7 linked regions of the Homo sapiens genome follow. The protein of the gene in region 1 purifies or fractionates together with the protein of each later gene. This does not show direct contact. Each region holds a gene or a part of one and is shown in the gene's direction. Other genes may lie near its edges. The genes, in order: SLC35D4, FAF2, ANKLE2, RMND1, UGCG, DNAJC11 and HS2ST1.

Evidence for each region.
Region 2: the proteins of SLC35D4 (region 1) and FAF2 purify together in Homo sapiens (affinity purification with mass spectrometry; one large-scale study listed by BioGRID and IntAct). This does not show direct contact.
Region 3: the proteins of SLC35D4 (region 1) and ANKLE2 purify together in Homo sapiens (affinity purification with mass spectrometry; one large-scale study listed by BioGRID and IntAct). This does not show direct contact.
Region 4: the proteins of SLC35D4 (region 1) and RMND1 purify together in Homo sapiens (affinity purification with mass spectrometry; one large-scale study listed by BioGRID and IntAct). This does not show direct contact.
Region 5: the proteins of SLC35D4 (region 1) and UGCG purify together in Homo sapiens (affinity purification with mass spectrometry; one large-scale study listed by BioGRID and IntAct). This does not show direct contact.
Region 6: the proteins of SLC35D4 (region 1) and DNAJC11 purify together in Homo sapiens (affinity purification with mass spectrometry; one large-scale study listed by BioGRID and IntAct). This does not show direct contact.
Region 7: the proteins of SLC35D4 (region 1) and HS2ST1 purify together in Homo sapiens (affinity purification with mass spectrometry; one large-scale study listed by BioGRID and IntAct). This does not show direct contact.

The regions. Positions count from the first base shown.
Region 1 is NC_000018.10:23,350,962-23,354,461, reverse strand, and holds part of SLC35D4 (UDP-N-acetylglucosamine transporter TMEM241), read left to right. Parts: intron 1-2,172; coding exon 2,173-2,266; intron 2,267-2,467; coding exon of another isoform or gene 2,468-2,569; intron 2,570-3,500. UniProt on the Homo sapiens protein: Golgi-localized UDP-N-acetylglucosamine (UDP-GlcNAc) transporter that transports UDP-N-acetylglucosamine into Golgi lumen.
Region 2 is NC_000005.10:176,493,385-176,496,884, forward strand, and holds part of FAF2 (FAS-associated factor 2), read left to right. Parts: intron 1-614; coding exon 615-700; intron 701-799; coding exon 800-891; intron 892-3,101; coding exon 3,102-3,279; intron 3,280-3,500. UniProt on the Homo sapiens protein: Plays an important role in endoplasmic reticulum-associated degradation (ERAD) that mediates ubiquitin-dependent degradation of misfolded endoplasmic reticulum proteins.
Region 3 is NC_000012.12:132,730,833-132,734,332, reverse strand, and holds part of ANKLE2 (ankyrin repeat and LEM domain-containing protein 2), read left to right. Parts: intron 1-261; coding exon of another isoform or gene 262-317; exon of another isoform or gene 318-474; intron 475-3,500. UniProt on the Homo sapiens protein: Involved in mitotic nuclear envelope reassembly by promoting dephosphorylation of BAF/BANF1 during mitotic exit.
Region 4 is NC_000006.12:151,421,127-151,424,626, reverse strand, and holds part of RMND1 (required for meiotic nuclear division protein 1 homolog), read left to right. Parts: intron 1-995; coding exon 996-1,102; intron 1,103-2,021; coding exon 2,022-2,086; intron 2,087-3,305; coding exon 3,306-3,382; intron 3,383-3,500. UniProt on the Homo sapiens protein: Required for mitochondrial translation, possibly by coordinating the assembly or maintenance of the mitochondrial ribosome.
Region 5 is NC_000009.12:111,917,314-111,920,813, forward strand, and holds part of UGCG (ceramide glucosyltransferase), read left to right. Parts: intron 1-3,500. UniProt on the Homo sapiens protein: Participates in the initial step of the glucosylceramide-based glycosphingolipid/GSL synthetic pathway at the cytosolic surface of the Golgi.
Region 6 is NC_000001.11:6,639,317-6,642,816, reverse strand, and holds part of DNAJC11 (dnaJ homolog subfamily C member 11), read left to right. Parts: intron 1-2,759; coding exon 2,760-2,915; intron 2,916-3,500.
Region 7 is NC_000001.11:86,917,635-86,921,134, forward strand, and holds part of HS2ST1 (heparan sulfate 2-O-sulfotransferase 1), read left to right. Parts: intron 1-3,500. UniProt on the Homo sapiens protein: Catalyzes the transfer of a sulfo group from 3'-phospho-5'-adenylyl sulfate (PAPS) to the 2-OH position of iduronic acid (IdoA) or glucuronic acid (GlcA) within the heparan sulfate (HS) chain and participates in HS biosynthesis.

The DNA.
Region 1 (3,500 bases):
TGCAAGCTCTGCCTGCCGGGTTCACCCATTCTCCTGCCTCAGCCTCCCGAGTAGCTGGGACTACAGGTGCCCGCCACCACATCAGGCTAATTTTCTTTTTTTTTTTTTTTTTTTTTGTATTTTTAGTAGAGACGGGGTTTCACCGTGTTAGCCAGGATGGTCTTGATCTCCTGACCTCGTGATCCGCCCGCCTCGGCCTCCCAAAATGCTGAGATTACAGGCTTGAGCCACCGCACCTGGCCATATCTCACTCTTTGTCTAGCTGGTCAAGAACACATTTCCATGAAGCTTCACGTCTTCCTCAGTTGTCCTGCCTCCAAATGCCAGGAAGAGTTTGGAGCTCCCTTTGCTATGGCTCTGGCCACACAGTGGCACTTTTGAAAATAGTTCCAGCGCAGGCAACTACATCTGTCCACTGCTGTGCCAGCGCCCTTGCTGGTCCAGAGATCTGAAGAGCCATGGAGACCTGGATTCTAATTGTACCTGTGCCCCAGTTTCATTGTTAATAAAGTGAGACTTTGGGGATAGGTAATCTTACTGTTCTAAAAGCCTCTGGTTTCCATTAAGATAGGATGAGGACTGCTATGATTATTTCTACTTTAAGGCAACTGAACCTGAGACAAAAAGGTGGGAAGGGGGATTTGGTTAAGGTTACGAGGGTCAGTAAGCACAGTGAGGAATAGAAATCCAGGCGCTGGGTGTGATTGGGTAGGCCTGCTGCTTACCCACGGGCCCTCTTTGCCTTTTGGGTGTGAGTAACTTGACATCTTAATCCATAGCTGTTCAGCCTCCCATGACTGCTGATGCAAATTGGAACAAACTTTGCAGGTCATTAGGGCCAAACAGGCTGAAATACACATGGGGAAACCTAATGCCTGTCTTTAGTCCTGCCCCAAGAATGTGGCTGTGAACTAGTCTAATCTAATGAAGTGAAGGTACACATTTCTGTGACATTTGGCCTTAGGTGTGTTCAATTAATTCAGTCTGCTTCCAATTCAACCTGACAAGCATTTAGTTAATGTGTACCGTAACTGAGGCACCATATTAGGCTCCGTTGAAAATACGAAGAGCAGCCCAAGATTGGGCTTTTCCTGCTCAGAGTTTATGATCAGTATTGGAGCTGCGCACCAGTGCCTGTATAAGGTCAGATGGAAGTGTGGCAGTCAAGGGTCTGGAGATGCAAATGAAGTACAACTCACAGGGCTTGCCTCTCTAGCTTGGAGTTACAACTGCAGTCATATCTCTTACTTTGCAATTTTCAAGTTCAAATAACAGTCACACTCAAACCACCACTTGCACATATTTGCATGAAGTCAGCCTTTCTCTCTCTCTCTCACATACACACACACACACACACACACACACACACACACACACACACACACTGTCTGTCTCACCTCTTCCCCAGTTGTCCTGCCTTCAAATGTCAGGAAGCATTTGGAGCTCCCTTTGCTTTGGCCTTGGCCACACAGGGCACTTTTGGAAATAGTTGCAGCACAGGCAACTACATCTCCATCCACTGCTGTGCCCTCGCCCTTGTTGGTCCACACTCCTGAATAGCCCCAAGATGCTGCCCCTTCCTCAGGTTCTCGAGTGGGGATCTTTCCATTCACACACATGTGTAGGCACCATTTCCAAAGCATACCTCCTATGGCAGGACAGCCTGGTTTGGGGGACTTCTGGCCTCAGCCATATGTGTCACTGAAGCCAGCCTTCCCCTTCAGATTCTTTTGAGCCTGGAGGCCAGTCCAGACTCTCTCTTCTCACATGGTGAGTTTCCCTTTGGAAGTCTTTTCCTGCCAGTTTATCTTGCTTGAAAAAAATTTAAGCTCTGCCTTGCCAAGCACCAAAACTCCAGAAGTTCTATGGGAAGGAACAAGAGGTGTTGTCCTCCACCTTTTTTTTCTTTCATGATTTAGCCAGAGGCCTCTGAAATTTCTTTGCACCATTCCTCTAATCAAAATTCTCCCACCATAGCTCCTTAGAAAAGCAGAGCTTAATGACTTTAAAATTTTTTTTATTTTCATCCAGAGATCACAGATCTAGAAAACACAGATGAGGTAGAGGTTGCATAATAATTTGAAATTGATTGGTAAAATGTAGCAGACACTAGTCAGCCATTGGCTAAGGGAAGACAAGCCTCACTAACAAGAGAATCTTTTCTCCTTCCAGTGGATTTTTGGGATTCTTTCTCATGTTCAGTACAGTGAAGCTAAAAAACCTTCTGGCCCCAGGGCAGTGTGCAGCCTGGATTTTCTTTGCTAAGGTAAGAGACAAGAGGGGTGGGAAATTCTCTCTCAAGAGCCTGTGTATCCAAAGATCTCAGAACCTGGGTAATGTGAAGTTGTTTGAGCTTCATGAGACCACTTCTAGGCGCTGTCCCTGAGCCTGATCCTTCCTTCATTCAGGTAACGATTTCTGAGGCCTGCTCATTTTATCAACATGGCATATTTCATCTTTCTTACAGTCCTGGAAGACAATCATGGATAGGCTCCTTATTTCCTTCCTGGAGGCTGTGCAGGTGTCCAGAGCTCAAGTGACTTACACAAGGGGACTCAGTCGATCCAAGGTGATAGAGAAAGGAAGATAGACAAATGGCCAGGTTGGGGCATTTCTATGAAACCTTAGAAAAGGGATTATTCTAAGAACAACCTCTGTGTATCCGAATGACTATGGGGGAAGCATAAGATAAAGTGGTGGGGGAACCACAAAGAAACAGAAGGAGCGGGGAAGTGGCTGTGGGATGGCCAATCTTAACTGAAACATGGTGGGGCCAACTTCTGTTGGCACGTTTCATTTCCTTAGTGCCTGTGAGGGAGGCAAGTTGTAGAGCTCTAGATGCTGCTTTCAAGGAGTAAGCCTCCTTAATTAATTAAATTTAATTTAATGAAATCATTATTTAACTTGGGCTTTTAGTCATCTTTGTGTTTTATGGGTTGAAGTTTCTCCAGAAAAAAAACCTCAAACATTTTGCTTTGAAAATAAGATTTTTAATGATATTTTCACCCCCATGCATTTTTTTGTTTTTGTTTTTGTTTTTGTTTTGTTTTGTTTTGAGACAGGGTCTTACTCTGTTGCCCAGACTGGAGTGCAGTGGCATGATCTCAACTCATTGCAACCTCTGCCTCCCAGGCTCAAGCGACCCTCCTGACTCAGCCTCCCAAGTAGCTGGGATTACAGGTGTGCGCCACCACACCCAGCTAATTTTTGTATTTTTAGTAAAGATGGAGTTTGACCATGTTGGCCAGGCTGTTCTCAAACTCCTGACCTCAAATGATCCACCCACCTCAGCCTCCCAAAGTGCTAGGATTACAGGTGTGAGCCACTGTGCTCGGTCCACATGGCCTATTTTTTAATAGCATTAATAATTCCAATTCTAGCAGAATGTAAAAAGTAGCTGAGATATTGATTTCTGGCATGACAGAGTGAGGAGGTTGATGAAACCTCTTCCCAAAAAACAGCTAGAAAGCTGGAAGAAAACTGTCAAAAACATCCATTTC
Region 2 (3,500 bases), on another chromosome or scaffold:
CCACCCTTGACCATGTCAGCAGTCGTACAGTGTAATGTGCTCAGGAGCACGCACATGCAGGAGCACGCACAGGAGTCTTCGGCGCTAGCCTTGTCTTTGAAAGTCTTTTACACCCTATGCTCTTTAGAATGCCTTTGGATCGTACAGTCCATCATTCCTACTCGATATGTGGCCTGGGATCAGGGTTGTCTTCGCAGTTATTTTTTACTTACAAGGATGTTGTAGCTGTGAAGTAGAAAAATTCTCACCTCCCTTTCATATGGTCAGATTCTCCTGTTTTTATCTTCCTTAGACTGTGGGTGCAGCTGACTTTTCTGTGGTTTGTTGGGAACCTGTGTTTGTAAGCCTGTCTACTCTCATGTGTCTGTTAAGTTTGAATCCTAACAACACTAAAACCTTTTCATTAAAGCTTGTTAGCGTGGAGTTTCTATAGGGAGAACAATGCCAGGGGTGTGAAGGTAGGAGCTCAGGAATTTTCTGATTTCTTGCTCACCTTTTTTCCTTATTTTTCCTTTTGTTCCTAAATACATAACTGTATCCATTAGGACCCTTAGCTTAAATATAAGCTCAAGGCACAGTCTTCTTAATAGTGAGTGACCTTCTCTTTCTCACAGGCACTTAACGATGCCAAAAGGGAGCTTCGCTTTCTTTTGGTTTATCTTCATGGAGATGATCACCAGGACTCTGATGAGTTTTGTCGGTAAGTGGATTGATTATTTTCCTTCTCTTTTCTGACTCTTTCTGGTGACAGTTTATAGTCAGCAAGTTGTTCTCATATCCTTTTCATACCTTTCCACAGCAACACACTCTGTGCACCTGAAGTTATTTCACTAATAAACACTAGGATGCTCTTCTGGGCATGCTCTACAAACAAACCTGAGGGATACAGGGGTAAGTTATGTTTCTTCTGCCTCATTGAGATTGTTGGAGTATCTTTGGAATAGTCTGGAAAGACATGCCATGCCATTTATTACAAGTGTGTTTGTTCTGTGGTAGATACGACGCTAGTTGCTATTTTATATTGTCTCATTTAATCCTCTCAGCAGTCCTGAGAGATGGGGGGTCATATTACCTTTGCTTTATGGTTTAGGAAATAGGCTCAGAGAGTTCAAGCCACTGGCTGAAGATCACACAATTAGCAAGTTTTATTTTTTTTGTTTTTATTTAATTAATTAAAAAAATTTTTTTGAGATGGAGTCTTGCTCTGTCGCCCAGGCTGGAGTGCAGTGGTGCGATCTTGGCTCACTGCAACCTCCACCTCCTGGGTTCAAGCGATTGTCCTGCCTCAGCCTCCTGAGTAGCTGGAACTACAGGCATGCACCACCACGCCCAGCTAATTTTTTTGTATTTTTAGTAGAGATGGGGTTTCACCATGTAGCCTCAAACTCCTGGACTCAAGTGAGCAGCCCACCTCAGCCTCCCAAAGTGCTGGGATTACAGGTGTGAGCCACTGTGCCCCGCCATAATTAGCAAGTTGTAGCGTACAGTCGGGTCTGCCAGATTCTAAAGCCCGTTCTTCACATTCAGCATTGCCAAAGCCTGCCACATTCATAGAAATACCCAGTCTTGGCTAGCAGCTTGCTTTTAATCTTAATGGGCTTTTTACTGAAGAGTTTATTCTTTTCATCAACGATTTTAACAGAGCCCTTGCATAGTGAGTCAGTTGTTTGAGTACCTTGAGTGCTGATATGGATTTGGAAAGTTCAGATCTTTGCTGACAATAACTCTTCTTTGGAGATAAGTATTTTTAGACGGTTAGTAAAAGATACGAAGGCATCCAGTGAGGAAAAATGTAGTCATTTTTGTGGCTACTTCTATCCAGCAACTTTTGAGTTTATATTAGCATGCCACATACTGTGCCATGTCTTGAGAACCAAAGATGTGGCAGATGTTGTCCCTGCATCCCAGAGTCTGAATCTTAAGCCTAATTGTTTTTAAACATCCAAATTCCTGCATGCGTTTTGCCATTCTAATATGGCTTTGCAGGGGGCAGAAGGGAGGTTGTGAATAGAAGGAAGGTAAGGATTTTTTTTTAATAGAAGTTTATAAAATCTCTTATTTCACACCATAAGGAAAACATAGGTAAAACTCTGTTATGGTAAAAATCTTGGTCATTTGGACACCAATTTTTTTTTTTTTTTTTTTGAGACCAAGTTTTACTCTGTCACCCAGGTTGGAGTGCAGTGGTGCGATCTCAGTTCACTGCAGCCTCCACCTCCCGGGTTCAAGCGATTCTCCTGCCTCAGCCTCTCGCCTATCTGGAATTACAGGCGCGTACCACCACACCCTGCTAATTTTTGTATTTTTTGTAGAGATGGGGTTTCATTATGTTGGCCAGGCTGGTCTCAAACCCCTGACCTCAAGTGATCCAACCACCTCCGCCTCCCAAAAGTGCTAGGATTAAAGGTGGAGCTACCAGCCCAGCCTCAACTTTCTATTAATAAGCTTCTTTGGAACAGAAAAACTAACCTTTTTAAGGGTGGAGAAAAGTTACGTGGGGAGAAAGGATAAGGAAAGGATTAGGCAAGAGAAAAAAAAATGATGATGGAGATTATTATCAGTATCATCAGGCTGAGACTTGCAGCCTTGTGCCCTTTTAGGTTTGAGCCCTTGTACAGGGAAAAACTGTGCCAGATTCTTTATAGATCCTTTTTGTACCATCAAGTAGACATTATCCTTAAACTCTGCAGCCTTCCCTGGCATCATCACAACAACCACACCGCCACCAGGAAAGCCTGTCCTATTCTAGTCAAGCACCTAGGGATAGGCATGCAAATTGATAACAAAAACAAAAGATTACAAAACTGGGAGGAACTGGGCATGGTGGCACACTCCTGTAATCCCTGCTTCTCAGGAGGCTGAGGTGGGAGGGTCACTTGAGCCCAGGAGCTGGAGACCAGCCTGAGCAACATAGTGAGACCCTGGCTCAAAAAAAGAAAAGAAAGAAACTAGGAGGCGGGGAAAAAGCGGAGACTAAATGATACCTCTCGTCTTCCCCAACCAGGATTAAAACAGTTCTCTCTCACTCATTGTGGAAAGTCTAAGGGTTGATCTTTTTCACCGTCAAGTCCTGCCCTTGATCTGTTGGGTCTTTTTATCAGTCTCACAGGCTTTACGAGAGAACACCTATCCATTCCTGGCCATGATTATGCTGAAGGATCGAAGGATGACTGTGGTGGGACGGCTAGAAGGCCTCATTCAACCTGATGACCTCATTAACCAACTGACATTTATCATGGATGCTAACCAGACTTACCTGGTGTCAGAACGCCTAGAAAGGTACAAGGGAGTTCCCTTCTGGAACAGAGAGAGACCAGTTGTAAATTTGGAGGGCTGACCTCTGGGGCTCTACCAATCCTGACTTCTTCTGTGCATCAGGCCGCTATTAGCTTTTAGCTTTGCCCATTTATTGTCAAAATATTTACATACTTTGACCTAAATTACTCTATATCAGGTAATCTGTTCTTAGAGATGTTCAAAATAAAGACAAGGGCTGGGTG
Region 3 (3,500 bases), on another chromosome or scaffold:
GGGTCTGACGGGATGCGCACATCTGTTTCTCGTCTCTTGGTGTTTTTAACGTAAAGGTCTGGTACTTTCCCTTAGGTTAGTATTTTTTGAGACGGAACCTCTCTTTGTTACCCAAGCTGGAGTGCAGTGGCGCAATCTTGGCTCACTGCAACCTCCACCTCCTGGGTTCAAGCGATTCTTCTGCCTCAGCCTCCTGAGTAGCTGGGACTACAGGCGCCCGCCACCACGCCTGGCTAATTTTCGTATTTTTTTTTTTTTTAGTGGAGATGCGGTTTCACCGTATTGACCAGGCTGGTCTCGAACTCCTGACCTCGTGATCCACTAGAGTGCTGGGAAGGTTAATGTTAAATGGGTTGTGTGTCGGGGAGGGTACATGAAAAATAATGGCATCGCTTTGAGCAGTATTGCTGTTTCTGCTTGTGTTTGCATTATCCAAAATCTAATATAGTTTCATTCTGTGCCGTTTTCTCAAAACTCATAATAGCTGAACTCCATTGGCTGAGCCTGATATTTTAGATTTGGTATATTTTCAGGAAAAAGACGAGTGCACATCAGAATACTGGTGTATATCAGACACCAGGGCACGAAGCGCCTTGCACGGTGCGTATCAGACACCAGGACGCAGAGCGCTTCACACAGTGCATATCAGACACCAGGACGCAGAGCGCTTCACACAGTGTATTTCAGACACCAGGACGCAGAGAGCTTCACACGGTGCATTTCAGACACCAGGATGCAGAGTGCTTCACACGGTGCATTTCAGACACCAGGATGCAGAGCGCTTCACACGGTGCATATCAGGCACCAGCACGCAGAGAGCTTCACACGGTGCATATCAGACACCAGGACGCGCAGTGCTTCACACGGGGTATATCAGACACCAGCACGCAGAGAGCTTCACACGGTGCATATCAGACACCAGGACGCAGAGAGCTTCACACGGTGCCTGTCAGACACCAGGACGCAGAGCGCTTCACACGGTGCATATCAGACACCAGGACGCAGAGAGCTTCACACGGTGCACGTCAGACACCAGGACGCAGAGAGCTTCACACGGTGCATATCAGACACCAGGACGCGCAGTGCTTCACACGGTGCATATCAGACACCAGGACGCAGAGAGCTTCACACGGTGCATATCAGACACCAGCACGCAGAGAGCTTCACACGGTGCATATCAGACACCAGGACGCGCAGTGCTTCACACGGTGCATATCAGACACCAGGACGCAGAGAGCTTCACACGGTGCGTATCAGACACCAGCATGCAGAGCGCTTCACGGTGCATATCAGACACCAGGACGCAGAGCGCTTCACACAGTGCATATCAGACACCAGGACGCAGAGCGCTTCACACAGTGTATTTCAGACACCAGGACGCAGAGAGCTTCACACGGTGCATATCAGACACCAGGATGCAGAGCGCTTCACACGGTGCATTTCAGACACCAGGATGCAGAGCGCTTCACACGGTGCATATCAGACACCAGCACGCAGAGGGCTTCACATGGTGCACGTCAGACACCAGGACGCAGAGAGCTTCACACGGTGCATATCAGACACCAGGACGCGCAGTGCTTCACATGGTGCATATCAGACACCAGGACGCAGAGAGCTTCACACGGTGCATATCAGACACCAGGACGCAGAGAGCTTCACACGGTGCGTATCAGACACCAGCACGCAGAGCGCTTCACGGTGCGTATCAGACACCAGGACGCAGAGAGCTTCACACGGTGCGTATCAGACGCCAGGACGCGCAGTGCTTCACACGGTGCATATCAGACACCAGCATGCAGAGAGCTTCACACGGTGCGTATCAGACACCAGCACTCAGAGAGCTTCACACGGTGCATGTCAGACACCAGCACGCAGAGAGCTTCACACGGTGCATATCAGACACCAGGACGCAGAGAGCTTCACACGGTGCGTATCAGACACCAGCACGCAGAGCGCTTCACAGTGCGTATCAGACACCAGGACGCAGAGAGCTTCACACGGTGCGTATCAGACACCAGGACGCAGAGAGCTTCACACGGTGCGTATCAGACACCAGGATGCAGAGCGCTTCACACGGTGCGTATCAGACACCAGGATGCAGAGCACTTCACACGGTGCGTATCAGACACCAGGACGCAGAGCGCTTCACACGGTGCGTATCAGACACCAGGATGCAGAGCGCTTCACACGGTGTATATCAGACACCAGGACGCAGAGCGCTTCACATGGTGTATATCAGACACCAGGACGCAAACGCAAAGCGCTTCACACGGTGCACATCAGACACCAGCATGCAGAGAGCTTCACACGGTGCATATCAGACACCAGGACGCAGAGCGCTTCACACGGTGCATATGAGACACCAGGACGCAGAGCGCTTCACACGGTGTATATCAGACACCAGGACGCACACGCAAAGCACTTCACACGGTGCATATCAGACACCACGATGCAAAGTGCTTCCAAAGCACAGATGCACTGAATGGAAAGAGCATGATGGAAGAGGTTAATCTACAAAATCTAAAAGTGATTCATAAAAACATCAACGATGGCCGGGCACGGGAGCTCAGGCCTGCAATCCCAGCGGCCGGGCGTGGCGGCTCACACTATAATCCCAGCACTTAGGGAGGCCAACGTGGGTGGATTGCTGAAACCCAGGAGTTCGAAGGCAGCTTGAGCAACATAGTGAGACTCTGTCTCTATTTATTTTTTTAAAAAAACAGAAATTTGCTAATAACTAGAGATTCGAATCTGCTAAAATACAAATTAAAGCAGATATACAGTTTAAACTGTGTGTGTGTGTGTGTGAGTGTGTGTCTGTGTGAGTTTGTGTGTGTAAGGTCATAATAGAACCATTAGCCCGCAAGACACTTCATTTATAAAACAAACTCCCTGGAATGATAGAAAATGAAAATGATTGACATACATTAAACTAAGAAGCAGTGAATCTTCAACAGTCACGACCTGTGACTCTGAACCACAGAACTAGAGCGACGTCAGTGCCGTCGTTATACAGGAATCATTGAAGTCTGACCTTGCTGTGTTGTAGCTGATGGTGGCACAGAACTCACTTCTGTAAAGCGGCCTCATTTACAGTGTTGTCTTGTGACTATGTACATTTTAATTAGTAAATATTAAATAAAGTTGAGGCATTTCCTAAGTAGCAGGAGCCACAGCTCAAGTGTTCTGGATCCTCCTGTGGCCGCGGCCACCATCGTGAACACCAAACGGGACATTTCTGTTGCCTGTCGCACAGTGCTGCGCCCGGGAGCTCTTCTGTGTTATCTTCACACCTAAAGCGCAGCAGGGTTACTTCATGGAGTTGTTCTGGACGATCTTCGGGATCCTCTGGGGCACTGTGACACTCGGAGCCCCTGGGGTCGCAGCAGATCGGAGCTGGAGGGTGGCTGGGGGTGCAGGGCAGTCATCTCGCCCATCACCTGGGCTGCCCTTGGCGTTTTCATGTCCCTGCCTTTGAAAGAAAAGTCAGCCTGGCAGCT
Region 4 (3,500 bases), on another chromosome or scaffold:
ATAGAAATTTACTGTGAACGTTCTCCTTTTTATTAACTATCCTTCCAAAACACACTTTTAAGTTTTTCTTGTGTGGAGTGACTATTACTGAGCCAACCCCTACTGAACATTTGGTTTATTTCCTAATTTTTTACTCTTAAACACTGACCTTTTTTTTTTTTTTGGAGACAGAGTCTTGCTCAGTCTCCCAGGCTGGAGTGCAGTGGCGTGATTTCGGCTTACTGCAAGCTCCGCCTCCCGGGTTCACTCCATTCTCCTGCCTCAGCCTCCCGAGTAGCTGGGACTACAGGCGCCCGCCACCACACCCGGCTAATTTTATTTTGTGTTTTGAGTAGAGACGGGGTTTCACCATGTTAGCCAGGATGGTCTCAATCTCCTGACCTCGTGATCCACCTGCCTCGGCCTCCCGGAGTGCTGGGGTTACAGGCGTGAGCCACCGTGCCCAGCCAACACTGACCATTTTTTTAAAAGTTTTCAGCTGGGCAAGGTGGCTCGCACCTGTAGTCGCACCACTTTGGGAGGCCGAGGTGGGTGGATCATTTGAGGTCAGGAATTCAAGACCAGCCTGGCCAACATGGTGAAACTCTATCTCTATTAAAAATACAAAAAAAATTAGCTGGGTGTGGTTACGCATGCCTGTAATCCCAGCTACTAGGGAGGCTGAGGCAGGAGAATCGCTTGAACCTAGGAGACTGAGGTTGCAGTGAGCTGAGATCGCACCACTGCACTCTAGCCTGGGCGGCAGAGTGAGACTGTCTCAAAAAAAAAAAAAAAAGTTTTCTTGTATACAAATTTTTCTTTGCATCTTAGATTATTTCCTTAGGATAAACTCCTAGAAAGGGAATTACCTGGACCAAAGGATATGAGAACATTTGTAACACTCTTGATACAAATTGTCAAAATGACCTCCAGAAAGATGATATGGTGTCTTTTTCAAAGGAAAAGTTAAAGTGCTTTTTAAGATTTAGAAGGTATTATCTTTTTGCTTTTCACAGGGGACAGTCAAAACTTCACAGGGGGGAAATCAAGTTAAATTCAGAGCTGGATTTAGATGATGCCATTCTAGAGAAGTTTGCTTTCTCCAATGCTCTATGCCTTTCTGGTAAGTTACTACTGCTTATGGGATAGGGTACTACAGTTGTCATTTCACTGAGGGAAGTTTAAATAGTCACGATTTTGGTATATTTTCAGAATACTCAACAAAGCCTTAGCATTCCTTTTCCTTTTTTTCCCTCCATCAGAAAAAATATCTAGTATAAAAGATAGTACTGTGCTGAAGTTACTCATTCCTTATTAATTGTATTAATAAAGCTTAACCTCTCCAAAAGTATTTTTTAGATGATGATTATATTAGCCTTTGTTTTTTTCTCTTCTCTCTATGCGATTGTTATTCTTAGATAGTCTCTAATCCAGACAGAGAAGCCCAGCCTTGTGTGACTGGGCACAGGTCCCAGTGTAGAAAAACATACTCTAGTGTTCCATAGGAATGGGACCCAGAGTCACAGTGGCTATAAGTTTGTTCTGAAAGATCCACATCCCGAATAAAACTATACAAGTTCTTTAAGAATTTCTTTTGCCAGCAGTCTACCTTAGGTGGCTGCTGCAGCGTCCTGTCCATCCCACTCTGAGGGGCTTCGGAGATTTCTGAGGTTTACTCTTAGTCCTGAGGAGTGAAGGGGAGGCCAGGAAAGTCTTAGTCGCGCCCTATCTGCAGAGCTACCCATGGTATCAAGGTGTACCCTACCCTCCTCAGTTTCCAAGATGTAATACTAGAAAATCAAGAGTTCTACTAAATGTAGCTTTGGTCTTCCAATAGGGCATGGAAAGCGATTCAGTTTCCTCTATCCACTTTAATTCTGTCCTTTATGATAATTAACTATTCTTAAATTATATTTTCAAGGTTTTAGTACTTTTTCTTAAACTATTACTGAAATAGTAGTGAAGATGCTGTGCAATTATGTATTTTATATACATGTGAATATGATGATAAAGAAATGTTCCATTATTAATTTTTTTCCCAGTAAAACTGGCAATTTGGGAAGCATCACTGGATAAATTTATTGAATCTATTCAGTCAATTCCTGAGGTAATTATATCAATTTTATGCTTATTCAAGGATTGATTTTTATATGTAAAAAATATGAATTTCCCAATATAACAATATATAGCTATCCATCAGTATCCATGGGAGATTTGTTCCAAGACCCCACTGGATACCAGAATCTACCAGTGTCCAAATCCCTGATATAAAATGGTATATATTTGCATATAACCTATGCATATCCTCATGTATACTTTCAACCATCTCTAGATTACCTAAAATACCTAATATAATGTAAATACTATGTAAATAGTTGTTATACTGTATTATTTAGGAAATAATAACAAGAAAAAACAGTTTGTACATGTTCGGTACAGATGCAACCATTCTTTTTTCTCAAAATACTGTCAATTTGCAGTTGGTTGAATCTGCAGTTGCAGAACTTATAGAGGGCCGATTGTTTAGGAGTACAACAACATTATTACAAACAATAAGAAAACTACAGTAAACTTAAGAACTCCCAGTTACATATAAAATGACAAATTAAGAAACTTCATATTGATTACTTTTTACTTTTTAAAACTTCAAATTGTTTCCTCTGTTGGTGCAGTATTTTTTTTTTAATATTAATATAATTGAAATGGGGTCTGGCCATGTTGCCCAGGCTGGTCTTGAACTCCTGGGCTCAAGCGATCCTCCTGCCTCGGCCTCCCAAAGTTCTAGCATTACAGGCCACGAGCCACCATGCCCGTCAGTTGCAGTATTTTTAATGTAACTGAATTAAAGAAAAAAGTGAAATGTTTCTCTCTGAGAATGGAAATTATGACCACTTTTCCTGATTTAAGAAAGTGTTTTGCTAAATTATGAGAAAAATAGTGGTATGAAAAATACATATAAAGTTATATTGAAATTTCAGTATACATTAAAAATCATCATATTGTAATTAACTGTGTCTTTATTGTGAAAGAGTAATCTAATTATACTTCGGAAAGGAGGCCCTGCTTTTCTACTAAGAGATTAGGAATGTATATATCATTGAAAATGCTGATGAGAAGGGAAATGAAAAAAGAGAATATACAATTTCTACCTAATAAAATTATGAAATTTCAAGGTGAGTTAAGACATTAATCTGGGAGACAGCCATCCTAAAAAATATTTACATAGGATCCAAATTATGCCACTTCAGATTTTGCCCTGTTGACCTAATGCTTATTAGAAAGAGAGATACATGGTTTTTTGGTTTTTCCGATTCCCTCTCAACTAGGCTTTAAAAGCTGGGAAGAAAGTGAAACTATCTCATGAAGAAGTTATGCAGAAAATCGGTGAACTCTTTGCTCTAAGGTAAAAGTTTTCTCTCTAAATAAAATATTTCATATATTTAACAATCTCAAGAAAACATTCCCATAGTTCTGTGGTGAAGAGCAAACATTTACACGTTTATGGGAACTGTAGCTGTTTT
Region 5 (3,500 bases), on another chromosome or scaffold:
TGGTGAAAACCAAATACAATGGCAAATGTTCCACAGGAGACTAAAGTTAAACCACTGAAATCACGCATATCTGAGCATGAACAGACAAGGCATTTGTGTCACCAAGAAGTCAAGGAGACCCAAAATAAACATTTACGTGACTGCCAGGCGCAGTGCCCTTTCATATTTGCATTTTGCCTGGTGTGAACATCGTTTTACCAGAGTATGGAAATGTTTTCATTTTGGACATAACTTTCTCTTCTAATATTCGATTGGGACTATCATAGGCCATTTGGGGGAAAATAATAAAACATATCTTCAAGTTTTAAAATTTTACTTAATTTTGGACATGTGCAAGAAAATTTACTGCTACTGGTACTTGCTCTGAATTTCTAGGTTTCAATTTTGGTGAGACTAGACTAGTTGCTCTGAAAGATCTCTGCGCTGTATTCATCTTACAAGTCTACTTTTATACTGATACTCATTCCTTGGGAAGACATAAAAGAATGAAAAGGTGATGCAGTTCATTTTCCACAGCATTGAACACTCATTTGTCACCAGCGTAGAAGGGATTTGGGGAGAGATTAAGCAGTAGCAGTAATAGTCAATAATCTGCGTCTAAAGTGGCTTGCTGGCTTTACTTCAGTAAATTCTGGCCATGTGAAGAATACCTAAATCAACTATCAGAGTTCTTAACAGTGAACCTGTCATAACTATGATTTTTTTTTCTTTTTTGCAATTATAGAATTGATTTTTTTTTTCCTTTTGAGGCAGAGTCTTGCTCTGTCACCTGTGCTGGAGTACAATGCCACAATCTCGGCTCACTGCCACTTCCGCCTCCCGGGTTCAAGCAATTCTCCCGTGTCAGCCTCCCGAGAAGTTGGGATTACAGGCGCATGCCACTACCGCTGGCTAATTTTTATATTTTTAGTAGAGAGAGGATTTCATCATGTTGGCCAGGCTGGTCTTGAACTCCTGACCTCAGTTGATTCCCCTGCCTCCGCCTCTTAAAGTGCTGGGATTGCAGGTGTGAGCCACCGTGCCTGGCCTGATTTAACAATTTTAATACAGGGATTCTTAGCAAATAAAATATCTCATCAAATTGTGAAGACACAGAGCTGATAGCTGAAAAATGATTCCTGGTTAAAATCTGATACTTTAGAAAATACTTGGAATGCTGCCTCCAATTTGGTGTAATTTCCAATATCAAAAACAAATGAATCTTATGTATTTGAGTCTGAACTTTTTTTTGGATAATATGAATATGAGTCTCATTTACACTCTGGCTAATCAGAAAGTATTTGTTTTTAATTAAAAATTATGTTTAAGCAGTGTAATCAATAAAAATTAAAACTTCAAGGCCGGGGGCGGTGGCTCACGCCTGTAATCCCAGCACTTTGGGAGGCCGAGGCGGGCGGATCACGAGGTCAGGAGATCGAGACCACGGTGAAACCCCGTCTCTACTAAAAATACAAAAAAAAAATTAGCTGGGCGCAGTGGCGGGTGCCTGTAGTCCCAGCTACTCGGGAGGCTGAGGCAGGAGAATGGCGTGAACCTGGAAGGCGGAGCTTGCAGTGAGCGGAGATCGCGCCACAGCACTCCCGCCTGGGCGACAGAACGAGACTCCGTCTCAAAAAAAAAAAACAAAAAACAAAAAAACAAAAAAAAACACTTCAAACCTTGCATCTGAATAAAGGCAGACTGTACCTCCCTTACTTATAACCTCCCTACTTAACACTAGTATAGCATTTTTCTTCCCATTGAGTATATTTCTAGTACTATATTTTTACAAAGTTTTCTCTTGCTGGGGAAAATAAAAGCTAAGATTAGTTTTTTATTGTACTTTATGGAATTGCATTACTTATAAACATTTCCTTTCATCATATGTACTCATACTCACAAAATAGCATTAAAAAAGCATTAAAGGCTGGGCATAGTGGCTCATGCCTGTAATACCAGTACTTTGGAAGGCTGAGGTGGGCAGATCACTTGAGCCCAAGCATTCAAGACCAGCTCGTCGTCTGTACTAAAAATACAAAAATTAGCCAGGTGTGGTGGTGCACACCTATAGTCCCAGCTACTCGGGAGGCTGAGGTGGGAGGATTGCTTGAGCCTGGGAAGTTGAGGCTATAGTGAGCCAAGATCACGCCACTGCACTCCAGCCTGGGTGACAGTGAAAGACCCTGTCTCAAAAAAAACCATTAAAGATACTATGCTGGCTGGGCACAGTGGCTCACACCTGTAATCCCAGCACTCTGGGAGGCCGAGGCAGGCAGATCACGAGGTCAGGAGATTGAGACCATCCTGGCTAGCACAGTGAAACTCCGTCTCTACTAAAGAAAAATACAAAAAATTAGCCGGGCGTGGTGGCGGATGCCTGTAGTCCCAGCTACTCGGGAGGCTGAGGCAGGAGAATGGCGTGAACCCTGGAGGCCAAGCTTGCAGTGAGCTGAGATAGCGCCACTGCACTCCAGCCTGGGTGACAGAGCGAGACTCCATCTCAAAAAAAAAAAAAAAAAAGAAACTATGCTATGTTTGGAAAAACAAGGAACTCTTTAGAGCAAGCCTGGCTGAGCAGCCTCCTATAGTAGGAAAGCTCGTTGTTACTTTTGCCGTTTGAAAAGTCACTTAACCTCTCTAATCATTATTGTGAAGGTCATTGCCTTTTTGGTGGCTCAGCCAAATATTGTTTTGAGAGTCTGGATGGGAGGCTGACTGACACTTTCTGTGACTTAGAGTCAGCTCTTAAGGAAATCTCAGGAGGGTGGTAGAAGTAGGGCCCTTTCCATTTTCAGATTTTTATCTGGTCTCTGGAGACCAGGTAACTGTCAAGTTGGTTTCAGTACCTCTTGAGTGGCAATTTTCGTCAGTCATCATTAGAGGTAGATATTGGATAGAATATATAATAACAGCAGTATGTAGGTAGAAAGTATGAGGAAAATATACATTGTTTTCCTCATCGACTTAATTATTAAGAAAACATGTTTTTCATTTGACAAAAAATCTTATTAGCTAACCTTCTTCATTAACCTTAGTCTTGGTTCTTTTGTGATCAACTGCAAATTTCTTTTATTTTTATTTTCCCCGAGACGGAGTTTCACTCTTGTTGCCCAGGCTGGAGTACAGTGGCGCAATCTCGGCTCACTGCGACCTCCCTCTGCCTCCCAGGTTCAGGCGATTCTCCTGCCTCAGCTTCCCAAGTAGCTGTGATTACAGGTGTGTGCCACCATGCCTGCTAATTATTGCATTTTTAGTAGAGACGGGGTTTCACCATGTTGGTCAGGCTGGCCTCGAACTCCTGACCTCAGGTGATCCACCTGCCCTGGCCTCCAAAGTGCTGGGATTACAGGCTTGAGCCACCACGCCTGGCCCACAAATTTTTTTATTGGCAGTTTTTGCTGAGATTATAGGTAGTGGGCAAACAATTGTTATTATGCTCACAGGCACTATAAACATTTTATTTCTACTTTTTACTTGTGTATGCTTATCATTGGAAGTAAATATAACAGACTTTGTCGTTC
Region 6 (3,500 bases), on another chromosome or scaffold:
TTGGATACCTAACAGCATCTCAGATGTCACGTATCCAAACAGAACTCGATCCCTCCCTGTGCCCCCAGAAACGAAGAACCTTCAGAACCTGCTCTGCCCGAAGTCTTTCCCATCTCTCTCTCTTTTTTTATTTTATTTTTATAGAGACAGGGTCTCACTTGGTTGCCCAGGTTGGTTTTGAACTCCTGGCTTCAAGTAGTTCTCCCGCTTCGGCCTCCTAAAGTGTTAGGATTACAGGTGTGAGCCACAGCGCCCAGCCTCCTTTCCTATCTCAGTAAATGAGAGCTCTGGCCTTCTACTTGCTCTGTCCAAAAACCTTGGAGTCAGCCTCGATCTCTTTCTCTCCCACACTCCAAATCATACATATCTCAAAATCATCTCCTGAACATGTACTCCAAAATTGTATCCCCAGTCTCGCCATTTCTCAACCTCACTGCGGCCAGCATCTTTGTCTTAGTTACACAGCACCCTCCCCACGGAACCTGTCTCCCTCCTTGTGTGTCTGCTTTCCGTAGGAGAGTCCTTTTTAAAATTGAAGGCAGTTCACGTCTGTCTTCTGCCTAAAACCTCAGAGGTTCCCTCAATTCCAGTCGGAGGCCAAAGCCCTTCAGAGACTTTGGAGCCTACAATGCCCTCCGTGATGTAGTACTCCTCTCTACCCCAACCCCAGCCATCCTGACCCCCTGGAGCTATTCCTGGCACACACCAGGCCCCCTCCTGCTTATGAGGTGGCCTTTGCTATTTCTCAGTCTGCAGATAAATACGTGGCCATTTCCTTCACTCCCTGTAAGTATCTGCTGTCTGCTCAAATGTCCCCTAATTCACCTTGTATAACATAGTAGCCCTTCCCCTTGCCCCAGGTGATCCCCCCCACCATGTTTGCCATGTTCAATCTCCAACGAGCCAGTCTCCATCTGAAGGGCCATCTCCTGCACTCCTCATCAGACATAAGCTCTTGGACTTGGTCCATTTTATTCTCACCCGCACTTCTAGAACCTAAAACCCATCGTGGTACTTGAGAGGAACTCAGTGAGTGAATCAAAGTGGATCACAGCTCAGTTTTGGAAACAAAGCCAAATCACTTACCTAGATTAGAGCTGGCGTCAGCCATCTCTCCTCAGATAATATTTGAAGGCTCAGTACAGTGGCGCGCACACTTTGGGAGGCCAAGACAGGAAGATCACTTGAGCCCAGGAGCTCAAGGTGGTAGTGAGCTGTGATTGTGCCCCTCAGCCTAGATGACAGAGTGAGACCCTGTCACTTCAAAAAAAAAAAAAAATTTTTGTCTTGAAGTCTACCTTATCTGTTACTATATAGCTTTTTTAGTCTTCTTATGCTTACTATTTATTTTTTTTACCCATTCACATTTAACCTGTCTCTGTTTGTGTGTGTGTGTGTGTGTGTGTGTGTATATATATATATATATTTTTTTTTTTTTTGGAGACGGAGTTTCGCTCTTGCACCCCAGACTGGAGTGCATTTGGCTCACTGCAACCTCCACCTCCCAGGTTCAAGCAATTCTCCTACCTCAGCCTCCTGAGTAGCTGGGATTACAGGCGCCCACCACCACACCCAGCTAATTTTTGTATTTTAAGTAGAGACAGGGTTTCACCATGTTGGCCAGGCTGGTCTCAAACTCCTGACCTCAAGCGATCCTCCTGCCTCAGCCTCCCAAAATGCTAGGATTACAGGCGTGAGCCACTGAGCCTGGCCAAGTTTTGAGTGTTCTTTATCAATTCTGGAATTGCTTTTATTCTGGAAGAGCTTTTATTCTGGAAGAGTGTGATCAGGTATTGTCAGTGGCTACTCAGCATGTTTTCTTTTTCTGGCTTTTCAGCAGTTTGTGATGTACATAGATAAGGCTGTTGTTGTATTTATGATGCTTGGGGTTTCCTAAACTTCTTGCATCTGTAAATTTCCTTTTCCTCACTGGGGCTCTAATTACCAATATATTAAACTTAACACTCTTCCACGGGTTTCTGAGATTCTGTCCATGCATCCTCAGTCCTTTTCCTCTTGTTGACCAGGCTGGAGTGCTGTGGTACAATCTGCCTCCTGGGTTGAAGCGTTCTCCCGCCTCACTCAGCCTCCCGAGTAGCTGGGACTACAGACAGGTACCACCACGCCCGGCTAATTTTTGTATTTTTGGTAGAGATGAAGTTTCACCATGTTGGCCAGGCTGGTCTCAAATTCCTGACCTCAGGTGATTCGCCCACCTCAGCCTCCCAAAGTACTGGGATTACAGGCGTGAGCCACCACGCCTGGCCAAATTTTTTATATGTGGTCCAGAGTTTACACATTGGTCCAATAGGAGCTACTTTACTCAGCCACCACTGGAAGCAGAACCTCCTTAACTGACTAACTTTTGAAGTCTTCACTAACTTCTTTGGAAACCTCAGTTAAGAACTGAGATGTGACTCTCCAGTGACATCTGGAGGAGCCCATTCCTGTCCTCTCCAGCCTATGACTGAATGCACCTGTAGGGGACGTTGACCCCGTGAAGTGTTCCTCTTGTTGCTTTGGCTTGAGGTCAGCAGACACTGGGATCTTTCTTCTGTCACAGTGTCAGATCCATCAGCCAGACTTTGGAACGGGAGGCCAGAAGGTGGTGGACTGTGAAAGGAGCAGACTGCAGGCTCCTTTAACTCGCAGCTGCACGCAGCACAAGTTCTCTTCCTGTGCCTGACACCCCATTGCCCTTCCCTGGAAAACCTGATTCATCTTGGCTTTTTTTTTTTTTTTTTTGTATTTTTCCCCAGGCTCAACAGGGCCAGTCAGACATACTTCTTCCCTATTCACTTGACGGACCAGCTTCTGCCCAGCGCCATGTTCTATGCCACCGTGGGGCCTCTAGTGGTCTACTTTGCCATGCACCGTCTGATCATCAAACCATACCTCAGGGCTCAGAAAGAGAAGTGAGTTGACACGTCATGGGCATGTCACTAGCCAGCCCTGTGCCTCAGTTTCCTCACCCTTAAAATGGAGAGGATAACAGAGCCTCCTGCGTCGGGTGATGAGGAAACCTGAATTAAGTAATGCATGTAAAGCACTTAGGCTGATGTCTGGGTCACGATTGGTAAATGTTAACTATTTCTCCTCATTGTCCGTAGTTGGACTGCTGTTATCTCTTCGTTTGTAAATCTTACTCTCAGAAAGGACTGGAGTTTATAGAAGTGTTGGGCCTCGGCTGGGCGTGGTGGCTCACGCCTGTATTCCCAGCACTTTGGAAGGCTGAGGCAGGTGGATTACCCGAGGTGAGGCGTTCAGGACCAGTCTGGCCAACATGGTGAAACCCTGTCTCTACTAAAAAAATAGAAAAATTAGCCGGGCGTGGTGGCACGTGCCTGTAATCCCAGCTACCTGGGAGGCTGAGACAGGAGAATTGCTTGAACCTGGGAGGTGGATGTTGCAGTGAGCCTAGATTGCGCCATTGCACTCCAGCCTGGGTGACAGAGCAAGACTCGGTCTCAAAAAAAAAAAAAAAAAAAGTGTTGATCCTC
Region 7 (3,500 bases), on another chromosome or scaffold:
TGCAACCCAGGTATGTATGATTCCAAATCAAGTGCTCCTTTAATTATGTCCGGCTGCTTAAGACTTTATATTGACATTACGCTGAGATTTAGGTATTTGAATAGAGTTTTAAAATTGTAATATCAGTGTTTAATTGCATTTATTGCTAAGAATGAATATCATTCAGAGAAAATTGAATTTCTGATACAAAGGAATTGGTTTAATGTAACGTCTGCCCCTTGTTTAGATTCATGTAATGAACATAATTATGTTACCCAATGAAACAACTGAATTAGATAGCTTATTTTTACTATAGGAAAGAAAAATCTAGCTGTTTTCCATACGTGCAAAATCACAATGTTAAAAAAGCATTTTTATTTTGGCATAAAAAACCTATTAAACATTTTGTCCTTAAAAGTAGTTATTATCATTTTCATTGTAGAAGATTCCAAAGGATAGTATTGTCTGATAGTGGCTTTAATATACCTTGATTTGAGAGTACAGTATTTTGATGGTGAGACTTCTAATAGAGCAATAGATGTATTCAAAACTGAGGTGTACTCATTGACTACTTGGGAAATTCACTAATTAGGAATTCCTAAAAAAAAAAATTCAGTAATACAGCTTTTTATTTTTATTTTTTAAAAAACAAATATGGCATTGTAGTCCACATATTACAATGCGGCTTGCTTTTTTTGCCTTGAATGTTATACACATCTTTCCAGGTCAGTACATATAGATGTGACTTACTCATTCTATTAATAATAGCTGTATAATATTCCAAAGTATGCATGTATCATAAATTATTAAGCCATTATTCTAGTAACGGACATTCAGTTTGTCCCCCATCTGTCGTGTGTGTGCGTGTGTATATATACATATATATATAATTTTTTTGAGTGTTTCTTTTCTTTCTTGGTATTATAAACAATTATAGGAAACATCCTTATGTGTCCGTTTAACTCATGTTGATGTCATTTTGTGCTAGGATGAATTCTGTATGTGAGATTGCTGGGACAAAGAATATACATATTTTATAATTTAACAGATTTAAAAATCTACTTTTCAACATTTTTTTGTTTTTCAAAAGATGTAGTAATCTACACTGCCAGCACACATTCATTAGCACTAGAAGATAATCAGCTTTTAATTTTTGCCAGTGTGAAGCTGTGAAATGATATATTCAATTAATTTACCTTCTAATTTCTAGGTAGGTTGAACATCTTTACATGTTTATTGCCCTTTTATTTGTTACTTTTTTCTATTTTTCTATTGGGTGGTTTACTTTTTTTTTTAAATATTAGAATTAGTAATCCTTTATCTATCCTATGTCTTTTTTAAATTTTTTTTATTTTTATTTATTTATTTATTTATTTATTTTTTTGAGATGAGCCTTGCTGTCACCCAGGCTGGAGTGCAGTGGCACGATTTCGGCTCACTCCTGCCTCAGCCTCCCAAGTAGCGGGGATTGCAGGTACGTGCCACCACGCCCAGGTAATTTTTGTATTTTTAGTAGAGACAGGGTTTCACCATGTTGGCCAGGCTGGTCTTGAACTCCTGACCTCAAGTGATCTGCCCCCCTCTGCCTTCCAAAATGCTGGGATTACAGGCATGAGCCACTGCACCCGGCCTCTTATTTGTTTTTGTCCAAGTTTGCCATTTGTTTCTTGACTTTATGGTGTGTTTTGCTCATATAGAAGTTTTAAAATACACACAGTTAAATCTATCAATTTAGGGAAGTCGTTTTCATATTTTGCTTAGGAAGACTTACCCAGAGCCAGGATTGTGTACATTTTCTGTATTTTATTATAGTATTTTATAGTTTATTACATTTGGCTCTTTAAACCATTTGTATGTTTACAGAGATTTATCATGATTTTCTCAGTAAATCATTTTTTCCAACTGTATGTTAACATTCCTTCTTTTAATCACATACTAAGTTTTCATATGTTCTTGGATCAATTTTGGATGCTATTTTCCATTAATCAGAGATTCTTTAAACCTCGGGGACCCATAAATAGGCTTCAAGGTATCAGTGAATTCCCTGAAATTATATACATAACTTTCATCAGATTTGCAAAGGAGTATGTGATTCCTTTAATGGCAAGGATCACAGATTTATAGTAGATGTTTCATATTTAGTGGACTTTTTTTTGTTTTTAGTAACATAACGTGCAGATTGTGAGTTAAATTTAGGAGATAAGCTTATTACCTGTGAAAAAGAGAAGTTTTTCAACTTCAAATGAAGTTAATACTTCATTGTATTAAAATGTAGACTTAATTTTCTAGTGAGAAATGGAAAAGGACAGGGAATCCAAATGAAAACTATTTAACTGTGACTCGTTACTATAAAATGTCAGAATTTGTGGCTGGTAAAAAGTAGTTCTTCCCGAATTTCAAGAGCGCACTTGTTGCTAATATTGACTGGTCGAACAGTGCAGTGAAATATTTTCTCACATAAGTGATAGAACTATGTGCTTGGTAACTTTATTTTCTATAGGGTTTTAGCATTGTAAATAATATTTGTTGACTGTATTCTTACATCTCTATATGGATTTATGAGCACATTAGGAATAATCTTTTACATGGGGAAAATAATTGAGAATGGATTATGTAATCATCCATTGGTGAGAATTAATGTTAGTCATTATGTTCTTAAAACTCTACTAGACTAAACAACTAATTCCAGGGCCAAGGTTGAGACTGCTTTTTGGAATTTGGTAGTTTTTACAAGTAAGTTCCTGAAACCATGCAGCAATACCTGTAAGATGTTCCAGAGAATGCTAGATTTCCTCACTTCTGAAATCATTTGGAAAACCTCATAGTAGCTACTGTTTTGAGGACTTTGGGTTAATAGGAATACAGTTATTCTAGAATTGGTAATTGGTGCCTCACTTAGTCTTGAATAGGATGTCTAGTGCCATGGAGTAGTCACCTGAAATAGTTGATCTCAATTAAGATAATTCCAGGATGTCTGTCCACCACTCTGGTAGGCCTTCTAATAGCTTTTTGGCACTTAGAGAAATTGAAATAATAATGAATGTTCAAAGATTGCTCTCCAGAAGACCATTTTTGAAGGATGTACTTATAGATGAACTTCATAATCATGGTTCACTATAGCCTAGTTATTTTTAAGATCTACCCACCTACCAGTACCTGTACTTACGTATTCTGCCTTTCTGCCTGTTAACAATAGATGGTAACTGTCAGTGCTCCTGTTCGGTCATTTGTGCACCTGATTCTGTTGCCTCACTTACCTAAAGACATGGTTCCCGAAGCTTTCCCTCATTCTCCTGTCACAATGTATTCTTGAAAATTGCTAAGAGAGTGGATTTTAAGTGTTTTCACCATACCAAAAAAAAAAGTATGTGAGGTAATGCATGTTGTCTTAATTAGCTTGATTTAGCCATCCATGATATATACATGTTTTAAAACATGTTGTACATGATAAATATATACAGTTTTGTCAATTACAAATAAAAAAAAACTATCTTGGTAAATGTTCCAGGTGAACGTGAAAA